Linked DNA regions of Homo sapiens: region 1 is linked to region 2. Evidence: fine-mapped expression QTL. Tissue or cell type: thyroid. Region 2 holds a variant in brackets; the other region holds the start of a gene. All regions are shown on one strand. Distances are between the middles of the regions.

Region 1 (8,000 bases), 36 kb after region 2:
TCTGGAGAAACCAGGGTCCCCCTCAGCCACCCCTGCCCCAGGGGGTGGTGCAGATGACCCCGTGTAGCTCGGGGCTTGGTGCCGCCCACGGCTTTGGCCCTGGGGTCTGGGGGCCCCGCTGGGGTGGAGGCCCAGGCAGAACCCTGCATGGACCCTGACTTGGGTCCCGTCGTGAGCAGAAAGGCCCGGGGAGGATGACGGCCCAGGCCCTGGTTCTCTGCCCAGCGAAGCAGGAGTAGCTGCCGGGCCCCACGAGCCTCCGTCCGTTCTGGTTCGGGTTTCTCCGAGTTTTGCTACCAGCCGAGGCTGTGCGGGCAACTGGGTCAGCCTCCCGTCAGGAGAGAAGCCGCGTCTGTGGGACGAAGACCGGGCACCCGCCAGAGAGGGGAAGGTACCAGGTTGCGTCCTTTCAGGCCCCGCGTTGTTACAGGACACTCGCTGGGGGCCCTGTGCCCTTGCCGGCGGCAGGTTGCAGCCACCGCGGCCCAATGTCACCTTCACTCACAGTCTGAGTTCTTGTCCGCCTGTCACGCCCTCACCACCCTCCCCTTCCAGCCACCACCCTTTCCGTTCCGCTCGGGCCTTCCCAGAAGCGTCCTGTGACTCTGGGAGAGGTGACACCTCACTAAGGGGCCGACCCCATGGAGTAACGCGCCCGGCCCCGATGCGAATCAGGCCTCCCCTACATCTGGGGGCGTTGGCCGCGAGATTCCCATTGACACCTTTGTTTCGTGTGCTTTTAAATTCAGGTTAAATGTTGCAATAATCTGATGCAGAAGACTCAGCTTCTCAAGGGAGAGGGAGGGGGCGGAGCGGAATAAATAGTAACTTATTTAAGAAATGCACTTGGATTCCTGCCATCAGTCAGGGGCGGGGAAGGGAGTACCATCCGCAGATGGGTGCAGCAGGCACTTGGCCAGCAGGACACAGGAGACTAGCAGAAGGAAGAGGCCGGGGAGGAAGAAGCCAGCCAGGAGGGGGAGCCTGGGGTACCCAGACTCTGAGCCCCCTGATGCTGTGATGTGGCGGCGGATCCAGTTCACGTAGGCAGGGACACGAGTGTAGACTCCCGGCCTGTTGGGGCGGCCGCAGCCCTCACCCCAGCTCACAGTGCCAGCCTGCACCCAGGCACCGTTCACCTGGCAGACCAGAGGCCCCCCGGAGTCGTCCTGAGGACAGAGAAGGCGAGCATTGGGAGCCGAGAAGATGGGGAGCCCCTCCCTGGGCTTCAGCCGCCCCCATCCTCTGTCACGGCCTGGCAGGCTCACCTGGCAGGCATCCCCGGGGCCCCGGGCACACAGCATGTCGGGCTGAAGGATGCTGCCCCCGGGGCCGGGATAGTCCCGGCGGCAGGTCTCTGTGTCCACCACGGAGACTTTCACCTCCCGCAGGCTGTACGGGGGTGGCAGAGGCTCTGGGGTGGGGGGAACAGGCTTCAGAGAAGGTTGGGGCACCAGGCCCTGCACTGGGGGGATGGGAGACCTTGCCAGACACAAGTCCCATGCCACCACGACCCTCGTCACGGCACGTGGGTTGTGATCTGACGTTTGGCTGCTGCTTTGGATCCACACGACAGGCTTTGAAAAGGGACAGCCGATAGGGGCGGCCTTGGCTGGGTGTGGAAGCCACCAGGAGCAGGTGGTAGCATCAGCATCCCTCAAGCCAGCTCTCTTCCTGCCGCCCTTGCCTTCCTCCATCCCAGCATCCCCACGGGGGCTCCTCACCTCCCTCCCGCGTATAGCCCCAGCCGGTCACCCAGCACCGGATCCCAGGGCAGAAGTCATCTGAGGCCTCCGGGAGGCAGACGGGCAGGATCCGGCTGGAGAGGGTCACGGGGACACTGAGCTCCACCAGGGCGATGTCCCCGCTGGTCCCCGGCTGTCCTGAGGGGCTGGAGTGCAGGATGATCTGCCTCACGGTGGAGAAGTGGGGAGACAGAGTGATCTCCAGTTCCCCCAGGTGCACCTGGTAGTCGGATGAGTTCAGGGACCTGGGAGGGAAGGTGGCTGGGTGAGAGGGGCCAGCTGCGGAGGCTGGAGGTCAGTGTCGGCCCCGCCCAGACCCTACCCTTGCAGGCATCCGAAGCCCAGCTCTTCCCTCCTAGGCTTGGGACGCAGAAAGCCTGGGCAGTGGCCTCACCCTGCAGGGCCCAAGGACCACGGCAGCACCTTGGGGTTCCTGCCAGCCCCTGGAAAAGCCAGCAGCATGCCCGACACCAGCAGGGGCTGGTCAGGAGGCAGATTGCAAGCTCAGCTCCACGTGAAGAGACCGAGGGGAGGGAAGGAGGGAGGGAGCTGTCCATCCCTAGAGGTGAGCAAAGAGCTGCAGAACCTCACAGAAGGTGGGCAACCAGCTCCTCCCTTTCCATTGGAAGGAAGTAGGCTCAGAGTTCCCAAGCCTCGGAGTGAGTCAAGACCAAGTGGAGGCCTCTGCGCTGGCGCATGCCCCACTGGGGCCTGGACATTGAGACTGCCCCTGCCCACCCGGACACTCACCCGGAGAAGCAGTGGGCAGCTGTGAGCACCCACTGGGGGCTGAGCAGTGACCCGCCGCACACGTGCACCCTCCGCAGGCGGAGGCTGGCCTGCCATGGCCATGCGCCGGCCGGGGCAGCGTGACCCCCCACGATCCGGCCGCCTGCATCCGAAACCTGCGGCCGGCCACACCCTAAGTCGAAGGAGGAAGGGGTGCCTGGTGGGGATCCCAAGAAACCCACTGCACTTCCTCCATGAAGCCTTCCCTGACCACACCTCCCTGCCTTCTTGGGGACTTTGCTCTTCAGCTCTCTCGTCTGCCAGACTCTCCCCAGAAGCATCGTGGGTGCAGCAGAAATGACGTCTCAGGAGCAGTGAGCGCGCCTGGGGCTCAGGTCGTCCTTTCTAAGCACCATGCTCCACAAACTAACCAGGGCTCCCGGAGGCGGTGGAAAGGCTGCAGAGGGCCCCTAGGCGGCTAGAAAGGGGCTCAGAACGGTGGAGCCCCCGAGAAGGCCCGGGGTGCTGGGGGTGGCTGCCTAGTGGGCCCCGGTTTTCCTTCAGGGGTGGTGGAGATATTCGAAGCTGGATAAAATTCGGGGGGCGGGGGGCAGACAGCACTGTCCAAGGTGCTCGGGGCCTCTGAATTGGACGCTTGATAATGTAACTTTATCTTCTGTAAACTTCACCTCAGTAAGTTAAGAAGAAATTAAGAGGAAGTCAGCTGGAGACCCACTGGCCACACCTGGGTCTGCCTGAGCTGGATAATTGTGCTGGTGATGGAGTGTGGCCACTGGGCTGAATGGAAGGGAAGCTGGGATGTAGACAGACAGAGATGTTTATAGATAGGCAGCGGGTGTGGGGTGGGGCACCGGCTCTCCCACACGGCAAAGCCCCCAGCTGGTTCCAGGGCCACGGTGGGGACGCTGTGGGGAGAAAGTTCGAGGAGGGCCAGGTTGTTTCATGGCCTCAGAGCATCTCCCAAGGTACAGACTGACTACAGTGGTGGTGGGGGAGACAGCCCTGCAGCACACCCCGACCAGCCCCACTCAACCGAGAGATGCGAGCAGAAACCACGGCGACAAACTATGACCTCCCCGGGCCCCCATTGGGACCCCAGGGAAGGAGAGGGTCACCGAGGCCCTCCTGCCAGGCCTTGCCTGCACCCTCCCCCACACCCCACACCTGTCAGAGACGTACCTGGCTGCAAAGTCCTGAGGGACACACCTGTGGGAAAGACGAAGGGCCCAGGATGGAGGGGGCTGCCAAGGAGAGGGGTGTGCGGGCTCCAGAGGCCCCTGCCAGGCCTCAGGGCGGCACTGGGGTGGGGCCTGGTCCTGAGCAGAGGGGCCCGGCCTGGTGAGGCTGGGTCAACTGCTGTCTCACTGGCCCAGGGCTGGGTGGGACAAGCCACAGGCCATAAACGGCAGCTGGAGGCCGGGAGCTTGGCCTCAGGCCTGGGCCTCCTCCCCGCCCTCCAGGTCCTGCTCAGGAAAGAAATCACCAGTGTTCTAGGGCCTGGGACTCCTGGCACCCCCAACTCCCACCCGCACCCCCAACTACCACCCGCCCTGCCAACTCCTGCACCCCCAACTCCCACCCGCACATCCCTCCTGCCTCTCCCCAGCACGGACAGCTGGGCCTCCAGCCAGGGGTGCAGTCTCTTCAGAGGAGACACGGGGCCCCACAGGGTGGGGACTCAGCATGTTTCTCCGTCTCAGACCAGCCCCCAGTTTCACCCCCATCAGGGGTCCAGGCAGGAAGCAGATGCCCCCCCATCCCCACACCCAGGCCAGGTCACCCACCGGGCACAGCCAGGAGCAGCAGGAGGCCACAGGCCCCAAGGGCCATGGTGTCTGCCCACTGTAGGGAGAAGGAGGGCCAGCCTGACCCTTGGACCTGCTGGGCGTGGGGGATAGGGGTGGCCACACACCTGCTGTCAGGCAGGGCGGGAGGACGGAGGAGGAGGCCGGAGCTCCACAGACGGCCCCACCTGTTCCTTCTGCACCTCAGAGAAGGGTCGTCACCTCCATTTATCCCTGTGTGGACGCCACAGCCCTGGCACCAAGTGGCCGGCTCCGTCAAGGGAAAGCGGGGAAGGACAGAAGGCAAAAGTACTTCTCACCTTGTCTCTGCTCCGGGGCCAGGGCTGAGGGAGGGGTGAGTGTTCCTCTGAGTGCCGCCCCCTCCAAAAATTACTCCCTGGTTCCCTCGGGGCACGCCACCCCCTCTCCTTCATCCTCTGGGAGCCCAGTCCTGGGGGTTCTTCAGGAGGGTCCCAACTCAAGGCCCAGCAGCCCTTTGGAGACAGCTCAGGCCCTCGTGACAACCACTCTTTGAGAAGTCCCTGTCCCCACGTCCGGCAGCAGGTCCTGTGCTCGTGCGGCAGATCAGATGGGCACCACTTCACGGCCCAGCCTGGGTTGGCCCTTCCTAACCGTCCTGGCTGCCCCAGCCTGATGACTCAGCTGATTAGGGGCCCTGGGCAGCGCCCGGGACTTTCCTGCCGCCCTCCCCAGATCCAAATCACAGGCCAGGCTGGAGGGTCCAGCTGAGACCTTCTAGGTCAGGGATCCCCTCTTTGATGTGGGGAAACTCAGCCACGGGTTGGGGGGAGTTGCCTGACCACCCACCAGGATGTGGCCTCCCAGGCACAGACGTGGCCGCCTGCACGCCAGCACGTGGGGTAGCCAAGGCTCAGAACTGGAGGTTCAGTGTTTTTCCTGGTGACCAATAAGGACAACACCAGCATGCGGGGCCAGCAGTGCACCCACGGCCGGGCACCCTCCTCCCTCACGGCAGCCGCACACCTGGAGGGGGCGCCTCAGGGGAGGCAGGACAGTCCCACCCCACACAAGGGAGCGGGGTCTGAGCCACGAGTCCCCGGCCCAGGGTGCCCCTAACAGGGCGATGTCACCCAGTGGGGAGGGAGCCTGAGGGGCAGGGTCTTCATGGAACCAGGTCCTCTAGTCCTGACCTCTAGGGCTGTCCCCAGGTCCCCACAGGTGGGGACTTCAGGGCCCTCACCTGTCCCAACTCAATTCACCTGCAGCACTGGGGACCCCGTCTTTCTGCCTGTGCCCCAGCACGCCACTCCCCGCAGAGTGCTCCACACGACCCAGATTGCAGGCCTGCTGGGGAGGAAGAAGCTTCAGGCACCATCCCCTGAGCCCCAGCAGTCCTGTGACATGGTGCCGTTCACCCCCACCATTGGACAGGAGAGCCAACTGAGGAACCGGGAGGGGGGCCTGGCCCTGGTGATTGCCCCCAGCTTGGTGGGGTCTCCTGTTGTCCAGGACCCTGGGAGACCTGGGATTGCTTCTGTCTGCGGTGGCCTGGCCACCTGGGTGCCGTCCCCTCGGTGGGAACCCTGTCCCCCCCACTCGCCCTCCGCCTCACACCCCCCTGTGACGGGGAACCAGGGCCTCCTGCCGGCAGCCACGTGGGTGACCTTGGAGCAGGTGCCCCCGTCCCAGTCAAAACGCAGGTGGCTGCAGCCCTGGCCAGCAGCCTGCCTGCCACGTCCTGAGAGACCCTTCCTGCTGAAGCTGACGCTCACATCTGCCAGTGTCACTGGGCTGAGCTTCACTGAGCTTCCCAGGGATCTTAGATCTAATTTGGGAAGCTCTGGGGCTGGAGCCCGCCCTCCCCCTCCACCCAGTGACCGGCCCCTGCTGTCCACCTTTCCTTACACCGGCAGCCCTGTCCTGAGGGGCCGTCTTGCTTCCCTTCGGGGTCTCATCCCTCCGACTCCCACCCCGCAAAACCTCCAGTGGGCGTGTGGAAGTGCTTCTAGGGGCTCAGTGTTCCCTGGGGGTCACCCCGTGCTGTCTCTGTGATCCCTAGAAGGTGGGATGGGCCAGAGGGAGGAAGAAGGGCCCGAGTTCCAGGTCCATCTTCATTAACAAGACGCTGGGCCTGCAGAACAGGAGCCGAGGGATGGGCCTTCAGGGGCTGCAGAGGCAGAGGTCACGTGGGGCTGGAGAGGGCACTGGGAGTTGAGTCCACCCCTTGTGAGGACAGAGGTCATTTGCAGAGATTCGGGAGACTAAATGCACATCTCTGCATCTAACAGTTGGAAGGAAAGAGTGAATGTTTCTTTAGAGAGTTGTTTTCAACCAGAACAGCCCCGCATTTCATTCCTGAGTGTAATCATGTTCAAATATAAAATGCAAACAAGAGCCCGGGATAAAATGCAACACTCGCCAGACGCAGAGGGCTCACCTATTGATGTAGAGAAAGACCTCAAAATGAATTTGAAAATGTCAAACTCAGGCCGGGTGCGGTGGCTCACGCCTGTCATCCCAGCACTTTGGGAGGCCGAGGCGGGCGGATCACTTGAGGTCAGGAGTTCGAGACCAGACTGGCCAACATGGCGAAACCCCATCTCTACTGAAAATACAAAAATTAACTGGGCGTGGTGGCTCACTCCTGTGGCCCAGCTATATGGGAGGCCAAGATGGGAGGATCGCTTGAGCCCAGGAGTTAAGGCTGCAGTGAGCCCTGATCACACCACTGCACTTCAGCCTGGATGACACAGCGAGATCCCGTCTCAAAGCAAACAACTAGGCAAAGCACAAGCAGTGGACGGAGGGGCCGGGAGAAGAGCTCGTGGGAAGCGTGGGGTAGGGGCTCGTGATGGGCAGCCCTGGGGCTCCCGGTGACCATTCTCTGTCTTGACCCGGTTGCAGGGACCTGGCTGTCCTTTATAATCAACTGAGTTGCCCGAGTGGCTCTGTGTGACCCGAATGCTGGATGCATCGTGTGGGGAGAAGCCAGCCTCGGGGACCAGGGCTGCCCAGGAGGCCCCGTCCCACGGTGACTGGCTGTGCCTTGAGGGCTAGGACCTCACACTGTGGCAGGTGTCCTCAGCACACCTGGACCCCTTCTCTCCCAGTGACATCCACAACCAGAAACACAGCGATGCACACCAGTGATTTCCATGCACTTTAATGAGGTCCAGCACTCAGGAGGATTAGCGCCCACCACCAGCTGCCTGGGCAGGGGAGGGCCGGAGGGCCCGGTGCAGGCGTCAGGCTTAGGACAGGGAAGGGGGCTCAGGATGGGGAAGGGTCCTCAGGACAGGGGAAGGGGCTCAGAAGAGAGCAGGGGGCTTAGGACAGGAAGGGGCACTCAGGACGGGGCAGGGAAGGTGTGGGGGGCAGTCGCCACCTGGGTAGGAAGCAGTGGTGTTTTGAACAGGAGGGGCTGGCTCTCCAGTGACCCAGGTGGACACCCCAGGCCTGACTCACGGCTTTTTGGGGACATAGTGGTGGATCCAGTCCAAGTAGTAGGTGACACGGGTGTAGATGCCAGGCCGGTTGGGCTGGGCACAGCCCTCGCCCCAGCTGACCACGCCCGCCTGCAGCCAGGTGCCATTCACCTTGCACACCAGGGGCCCTCCGGAGTCGCCCTGGGAAGGTCAGAGGTCAGCGCTCGCCGAACAGGCCTGGGAGTGGGGGTTGGGGGGCGGGGGGCGGGGGACAGGCGGGGCCCACCTGGCATGAGTCCCTCCGGGTGTTCCCG
Region 2 (8,000 bases):
CCGGCCTGGGCTGCTCGTTTCCCGGCCCTCACCCTCATCCTCTGTGAGCCTGGGAGGAGGCACGGATGCCGCATCAGCCTCCAGGCATCCCTGCCCTCTCGTAGGCATCCAGGCCCCCTGGTGGAAGGCAGGTCTCAAGGGGCTGGAGGGTGCCAGGAGTTGTCACGTGGCCGGGTGGGTCTGGGGCATGTGAGGGCCTTCTGCTCAGCGAGAGTGGAGGCCACGTGGCAGGAGGAGGAGACACCCCCACCAACCTATGCCTGCCCATGTGCCGGGTCTCAATTCCTGGTCCAAAGGGCGCCTTCAGTGGCGACTGCAGACAGGTGCGGGGCTCCAGCGAAGGGAAGCTGCCATTTAAAGGCAAAGCTGGGAACGCAGGCTGTGGTGATGACTGAAGTGAGGTTCACGTACCATGGGATTAGCCATTTTTTTTTTACTTGTTTATGTGACGACCAGCGGATTTTAAAGCGCACGGGTTAGCGACCTTCGTGTTGTTGAACCATCACCTCTGCCTAGTTCTGGAATGTTTCCCTCACTCCAGAAGGAAACCGCATCCCCATCAGCCCTCGCTGCCCAGCCCTGGTGGTCTCTACCCCGCTTTGTCTCTGGGTTTGCCTGTGCGGGACTTTCCGTGTGACATGTGGTCCTTCTGTGCCCAGTTCTTCCCAGCATCATGTTCCCGGGTTCACCTGTGTTGTGGCGTGTGGAGCTTTCTTCCTTTTCATGGCTGAGTAATATTCCAGCGTGTGACCAGACCACGTTCCGTTTGTTCACGGGTCTGTTGGTGAACACCAGGGCTGTTTCCATCACAGGCCATCGGGGTCAGTGCCGCTGTGGACACGTGTGGGCCCGTCTGTCGTGAGTGCCCGTTTCCTTTGTCCCTGGTGTAGGCAGGATTGGCGTTCATAGCCTCACCCACCGGTTATCCGGAGCTTAGACGTGCCCGGGTGGCAGCTGGACTCCTGGACGGTGTCTGTGGGTCCTGCCAGCGGCAGCCAGACTCCCACATGGACGCTGCCATCTGCAGAGTCCCCCCCCCCGCCGAGTCTGCTTTTCTGGGGAACCCTGGAGATGCTCAGAAAGCCTAGTGGGGCACGGGGGTCCATGGCGGGTGAGTAGACGGTCAGCGTGCGTAGGGGCCGGAGGCGGGGTACGTGGGGGGCGGGCGAGTAGACGGTCGGCATGCATAGGGGCCGGAGGCGGGGTGTGTACGGGGCGGGTGAGTAGACGGTCGGCGTGCGTAGGGGCCGGAGGCGGGGTGTGTACGTGGGCAGGTGAGTAGACGGTCGGCGTGCGTAGGGGCCGGAGGCGGGGTGTGTATGGGGCGGGTGAGTAGACGGTCGGCGTGCGTAGGGGCCGGAGGCGGGGCTGTGTACGGGGCGGGTGAGTAGACGGCGTAGGGGCCGGAGGCGGGGTGTGTACGGGGCGGGTGAGTAGACGGCGTAGGGGCCGGAGGCGGGGTGTGTACGGGGCGGGTGAGTAGACGGCGTGCGTAGGGGCCGGAGGCGGGGTGTGTACGGGGCAGGTGAGTAGACGGCGTGCGTAGGGGCCGGAGGCGGGGTGTGTACGGGGCGGGTGAGTAGACGGCGTAGGGGCCGGAGGCGGGGTGTGTACGGGGCAGGTGAGTAGACGGCGTGCGTAGGGGCCGGAGGCGGGGTGTGTACGGGGCGGGTGACTAGACGGTCGGCGTGCGTAGGGGCCGGAGGCGGGGTGTGTGCAGGGCCAGGGTGTACCGTGCTGGTCCTCCCAGGGCTGCTTGGGGAGAGCCTGTTTCCTTAGTGGTGTTTTGAATAAGAATGCGCGGCTCCCTCGAGGTGTCCCAGTGGGGCTGTTCAGAAGCTGGGCCCAGGGAGCCCTGAAGGCAGGGGTCCAGCCTGCCGTGACCGCACAGGCCCAGATTCCTGGACGTTTCGCTTTCGTAATTGCACACGCAGGGCCTGGATTCGCCGTGCAGAAAGCCGGACGATGCCGCGGCGTGGGGTGAACGTCAAAGGGTCACTGTGGACTCTGCCCACGTCCTGAGTGCCCTCGTCTTGTCCCTCTCCACGGCGTTCTCATCCTCCGGCGATTCCCTGGGAACGTCTCTGTACCTCTGCACACGTGCCCACACACATGCCCCTCGAGATGGCCTGCACTGTGGCTTCTGTCGTGAATGTGGTCACGTGTCCTCCGTGACTCGCTCCTCCTGCCCCGTGTGCCCTGGACCTGGCTCGGTCCCGATGCCCGTGGCACCACCGCCTCCTCAACGGGTGGCCACGTAATGCTTCCTGGCCGGTGAATGTGCCACGGCAGTGGAGATATTCTGCCCTTCTAGCTCTTCTGTATACAAGCAGTGCGCCCTGGTTCTCAGGGCCGTGACCACCACCATGACCGGCAGACTTCAGGGCGGTCCGTCCCACTCCCGTGGCCTCGAGGGTCCTTTGGAGCTGCCGCGGTTCTGAGTGGGGGTGGACACGGACACAGGGCTGGTTCCCGGGGATCTCCTGTACCACCCACTGACTCCCAGGGTCTGCGGCTGGCCCGGCCCCTCCTGGGTCTCTTGATGTGGGACCAAAGCTGTTGCTTCCTCTGCGGCAGAGGCGATGGAGTCCCTCAGAGCCCGCGACCGTCCCCTCCGCACTGCGGGCTGATAGCGCCTGTGGGAATGGGCTTCCCCGGTGAATACACATAGGTCGTCTTCTTGAGCAAATTGGAAAAGTAAGGTTGAGCGTTCCTGAGAATGAGGGGCCGGGAGGGGAGGAGGCGGCCAGCGCCGCGTGGGGCCGTGGGCAGAGCGGACAGGGAGGGAGCGGCCTCAGCCTTGGCACCCTCTACCCAGGGCAGGGAGGGGTTTGCCCAGCCAGGGGTGGGTACAGAGAGGGGAGCACGTGGCTAAGAGTCCTGGTTGCCTGTGACCTCAGCTGCAGTCTGTGCCCTGCAAGGCATGGGGTCCTGAGTGGGGGGCTGTGGCCCACCTTGCTCTGGGCTTCTCCTTCCTGCTGTGGGTGCCTTTCCCGCCCACACCCCTGCCCCTGGCTCAGGCCGCTTGTGCCCAGCTGTTGCAGATTTGGCCTAATGGGGCTCAGCTGGCTGAGCAGATTGCTCTAGGGGACAGCGGGTGGGGCAGGAACGGCCCAGCCTCCCGATCCTCCCAGCTGCAGAGCTCTGCCACCCCGGCACTGATGTCAGGATGCAGCCGAGCAGGGAGCCCTGCTGGGATCCCTGGAGGCCACAGCCCTGCTTGGGGGCCACTCTGACCATAGAGGAGGAGCCAGGCAGCAGCCGCACCTGGAGACGTCCATCCCTTCGCTGGGCTAGCGCTGCTACAGTCCCCTCCCTGGTGGTCTGAGGAGCTGAGGCTGGCCTGTGGCTTTGATGCCTTAACTATCTCTTGAGGAGGGGCACACAGCCCCGCCTCCGTCCCTCTGTAGAAACATCTGTCCTGACCTTCCTTCGGCAAACGTGGAGGTCTTGGTGTGGTGAGAACGTGTCCTCCAGGGCCAGCAGGAGCCAGGCCGAGCCGTGTCAGTCAGGAGAGTAGATGGAGGGGCTTGTTTTGCAGGAAGGTCTGCATAAAACCTGTCAGCGCCAGAAAGATGAAATAGCCCTTTTGTACAGATGGGGAAGCTGAGGCTTAGAAAGGGGGAGGCACAGGTGGAGGTAGAATTGGGGTCAGGCTCTTGCCCCATGGCCCTGGCCTGAGGATTAGTCACGGGGCAGGGTCGGGGAGGCCCTGGCCCCAGGATACGTGAGCCAGCGGGTCTGGGCGGTCCTGGGAGCTGATGTTACCTGGGATGTTAGCTGATGTTTCGGGTTGGGGTTGTCCAGGACCACCCTTTGGGCCACGCTGGTCCCACAGCACACGGGCTTCTGAGGAACCCCTGTCCCTACCCAGGACCCTGGAGACCGCTGGCTCTGGGGAGAGGGGTCCCACAGCACCTCAGGGCTCAGTCGGCACTGTTTGGGGGTCTGGCAGCCCCGACACTGGCTGAGCCGCCCTGAGACTGGCTCCTGGCCCCAAGAATCCCAGGTCTCCAGCATCTTCGGCGCAGAGATAGCAGCTGCCAGGGTTCCCGCCACTCGCAGACACTCCCCCTCACCCAGCCGCGGGAATGCAGGCCTTGCTGCCCCCCACACAACAGTCAGTGGCTCTGGGGCTGCCCACGCCCGCGCCCAGGGGCCGGGAGAAAACGGCGCCTTCAGAGCTATGCGCTTTCAAGCTGGGAAGAGCAGTTTGGGAGTCTTTTTCCTCCTCGACTACCCCCAGATGAGAAAACGGGGGTCAGTGGAGCAGCTCCACTGAAGCTCTGTGTTTCCGGCCAGGAGGCCGCTTCCTCGCCCCCTCCTGGATGTGTCCCCCCACACCTAACCCCGGCCCTCCCAGCCCTGGTACATCCAGGACAGGCCCAGGCGAGGCTGCTGAT[T/G]CAGCACCATGGACAGCAGCCGCTGCAGCACTGCCCGCCCTGCGTCCACACCTCCTGGCCCGCCAGGGGCTGGCATCTGCGGTGCACTGGAGCTGGGCCCCTTGGAGGGCCCCCCCAGGTCCTGAGAGCTGAGGGGCTTCTGTGGACCTTGGTGTGAGCCACCATGGCCACAGGCGGTGCCCATGTGGGAAGGGGAGCGCTTACTGCCGCAGAAAGGAGGCTGGGGGGCTGCCTTTGTTCCAGGGTCCCGAGGGAAGTGGCGGTGTGCAACAGGAAGCCTGTAGGGGTGAGAAAAGCTGTTCTCCTCCCGGAGACTGAGGAGCTGGTGTCCCTGAAGCGTCCTGGGCGGGACTGGTTTTCTTCATGGGTGCCAGCTGGGGAGGCCCAGCCCCTGGCAGGGCTTCAGGAGTAGGAAGGGGGCTTAGCACCTGCCCAGCCCCTCAGAAGTGCACAGGCTTGGAGATGTGAGGAAGGGGAGGTGGCCAGGCTGTGCTGGACCTGGCAGGTGCCCTGAAGAGTGTCCTTTTTTTTTTTTTTTTTTTTTTTTTTTTTTTTTTTTTGATATGGGGTCTTGCTCCGTCACCCAGCCTGGAGTGCAGTGGCACGATCGTGGCTCACTGTAGCTTCCACCTCCTGGGGTCAAGCGATCCTCCCACTTCAGCCTCCCCGAGTAGCTGCCACCGCACCCCAAAATTTAATTTTTTTGTTAAATATTTGTTAAATATTTTGTAGCAATGGGGTCTCACTGTGTTGCCCAGGCTGGTCTCAGACTCCTGGGTTCCAAATGATCCTCCTGCCTCAGCCTCCCAAAGTGCTGGGATTATGGGTGTGAACCACCGGGCCCAGCCTGAGAGCACTGATTATAGAGTGTGGGGCTGAGGGACAGGATGGGTACTGTGCCTGAGGAGTATTTCAACAGACAGGGCCCCACCACCGAGGGGGTCTTCAGCCCTGTTCCCCTGTTCAGGCCTCTCTCTGGGGGGTTTTCATCGTTACGAGCCCCTGGCTCGTGAGCCCAGTCCAGTGGGGGCTGCCTGGGGAACATGTCATCCAGGCCAGACTCCAGGGGCTGGAGAAGGACAATGTGGTCCCCACAACCTTGGTCTGTCAGAAAAGAGGAGAATCACTGAGGTCCTGGGGCTTGGTCCAGGGAGATGAAGGAGGGAGGGTGAGTGGGTGCATTGCTGCTGGTTGGGCCTCAGGGTCTGGTGGAGGCTCCCTGCCTGAGGGAGACCCCGTAGCCAAGACCACCTCACTGCGCCACTGCCCGGCCCTTCCCTGGCTGGGTTCCCTGACCGTTCTGCCGCCCTGCAGCCAGCAGGCCCCCTCCCAGGGCTGTTCCCGGCTACGTTGGCCTGCTTCTCCGACCCGCAGTGGAAATTGATTCTAATTTATAGAAGTTGATTTGAAATCTAAAGGAATTTTTAATTAAAACCCAGAAAATCCATCTGTATGATTAAGCCTCCAGAAGTCACCAGGCTCCGTGCGACACAGCCGGCAGACACTGCCTGTCCTCAGCTGCCCACAGAAGTGTGACACATGAGGGCCAGCCTGCTCAGCCCAGAGCTGCCCGAGCCCCTGCTGGCCTGTGCGGGATGTGGGACCTCGGCTGACTGCTCCCCTCTCTAGGCAGAGCCCCAGGGGGGCACTGGGACCTGGTACATCTGGCAGTCCCTCTCCAGGGCAGGGAGGGCTGGTGGCTGGGGTGTGACCCGGTTGGGAGGCGCGCAATACGCCTGCCTGTCACGTCCTCTGTCGTGAGAGGCCTCCTTGGGGCCCCCCAGACCCTGCTATACCACCGTCCCCTCCAGAGCTGCCCCACAGGCACAGGGGTGGGGTCCTTGCCATTGGAGGAGCTCTCTGGGATTGTGGGGCTAATTTTGGGTGGGTGCTGGGGGAAGGGGAGGCAGAGGATCTACGATGGGTAGGGGCCCTGCAGACCCAAGAGCTGGGACCCGTCAGGCTGGCCTGGCTGTGTGGCCTCAGGCACACTCGGGGTCTCTCTGACCCAGCAGGCTGGCCTGGCTGTGTGGCCTCAGGCACACTCGGGGTTTCGCTGACCCAGCATGCTGGCCTGGTTGTGTGGCCTCAGGCACACTCGGGGTTTCGGTGACCCAGCAGGCTGCCCTGGCTGTGTGGCCTCAGGCACACTCGGGGTCTCTGACCCAGCAGGCTGGCCTGGCTGTGTGGCCTCAGGCACACTCGGGGTCTCTCTGACTCAGCAGGCTGGCCTGGCTGTGTGGCCTCAGGCACACTCGGGGTCTCTCTGACTCAGCAGGCTGGCCTGGCTGTGTGGCCTCAGGCACACTCGGGGTCTCTCTTACTCAGCAGGCTGGCCTGGCTGTGTGGCCTCAGGCACACTCGGGGTCTCTGACCCAGCAGGCTGGCCTGGCTGTGTGGCCTCAGGCACACTCGGGGTCTCTCTTACTCAGCAGGCTGGCCTGGCTGTGTGGCCTCCGGCACACTCGGGGTCTCTGACCCAGCAGGCTGGCCTGGCTGTGTGGCCTCAGGCACACTCGGGGTTTCGGTGACCCAGCAGGCTGGCCTGGCTGTGTGGCCTCAGGCACACTCAGGGTTTTGGTGACCCAGCAGGCTGGCCTGGCTGTGTGGCCTCAGGCACACTTGGGGTCTCTGACCCAGTAGGCTGGCCTGGCTGTGTGGCCTCAGGCACACTCGGGGTCTCTGACCCAGCAGGCTGGCCTGGCTGTGTGGCCTCAGGCACACTCGGGGTTTCGGTGACCCAGCAGGCTGGCCTGGTTGTGTGGCCTCAGGCACACTCAGGGTTTTGGTGACCCAGCAGGCTGGCCTGGCTGTGTGGCCTCAGGCACACTCGGGGTCTCTGACCCAGTAGGCTGGCCTGGCTGTGTGGCCTCAGGCACACTCGGGGTCTCTGACCCAGCAGGCTGGCCTGGCTGTGTGGCCTCAGGCACACTCGGGGTTTCGGTGACCCAGCAGGCTGGCCTGGTTGTGTGGCCTCAGGCACACTCAGGGTTTTGGTGACCCAGCAGGCTGGCCTGGCTGTGTGACCTCAGGCACACTCGGGGTCTCTGCGAGCCGTCACCTGTGCAGCACCGCAGGTCCGGGAGATTTGGGGTTCCATTGTCGCCAGGCTTAGCTCGGGAGGCCGTCTGCAGCTGGCGTGCCTGCAGGCCCAACCTTGCCCCTCTATGGTCTTCTGCTGTGTGTGTGATTTTGGCGGAGGGGGATGCACCTGGATGGGAGGGGCTCACTGGAGCCACACCCCTGCTTGGAAAAGACAGCACCCCATCCCCCACTAAACCAGACGGTCCGAGAGGTCGGGGAGGGGCACCCAGGCCCCCTCCTGGCTTCCCTCGCTGCCAGTCACAAAGGCTTGGGGTGGGTCTCAGTGGCATGGCAGAGGGGGCAAAGGTGTCCAGGTAGGACCCTGGCCTGGGGACCCCTAGTCAGCTGTCTTTGAGGAGTTGCTAGGCACTGGGTGCCACCCACCCCTGCCAGCCCCTCTGCCGTGGGCAGCTTTCATGGTGACTGGCACTGATGGGCCCTGGGCTCTGACACCATCCACTCCACTCTGCTGGCTGGACAGTCTTAGAGATGGCTGGTCAGGGGTGCTGGCCC

Evidence for each region. PIP is the estimated chance that this variant, and not a neighbour inherited with it, causes the effect.
Region 1: it holds the start of TPSG1, and the variant in region 2 is fine-mapped to the expression of TPSG1 in thyroid (GTEx, PIP above 0.99).

The regions. Positions count from the first base shown.
Region 1 is chr16:1,220,928-1,228,927 of GRCh38, forward strand. TPSG1 (tryptase gamma 1) reads right to left here and starts at 4,341. Exons shown (of 6, transcript NM_012467.4): 1 at 4,280-4,341; 2 at 3,675-3,701; 3 at 2,496-2,667; 4 at 1,725-1,990; 5 at 1,269-1,414; 6 at 724-1,169. The coding sequence starts at 4,325. The coding sequence ends at 861. It overlaps CACNA1H (calcium voltage-gated channel subunit alpha1 H), which reads left to right. Exons shown (of 35, transcript NM_021098.3): 35 at 1-841. The coding sequence ends at 67. TPSB2 (tryptase beta 2) reads right to left here. Exons shown (of 6, transcript NM_024164.6): 5 at 7,973-8,000; 6 at 7,409-7,887. The coding sequence ends at 7,723. It overlaps LOC124903621, which reads left to right and starts at 4,324. Exons shown (of 2, transcript XM_047434997.1): 1 at 4,324-4,634; 2 at 5,527-6,313. The coding sequence starts at 4,324. The coding sequence ends at 6,313. RefSeq lists a silencer at 3,193-3,379.
Region 2 is chr16:1,184,472-1,192,471 of GRCh38, forward strand. All of the region lies in intron 2 of CACNA1H (calcium voltage-gated channel subunit alpha1 H), which reads left to right. Among named protein-coding and RNA genes, the nearest start is that of CACNA1H, 35 kb to the left of the region's middle. The variant T/G (reference allele first, on the strand shown) is at 4,404.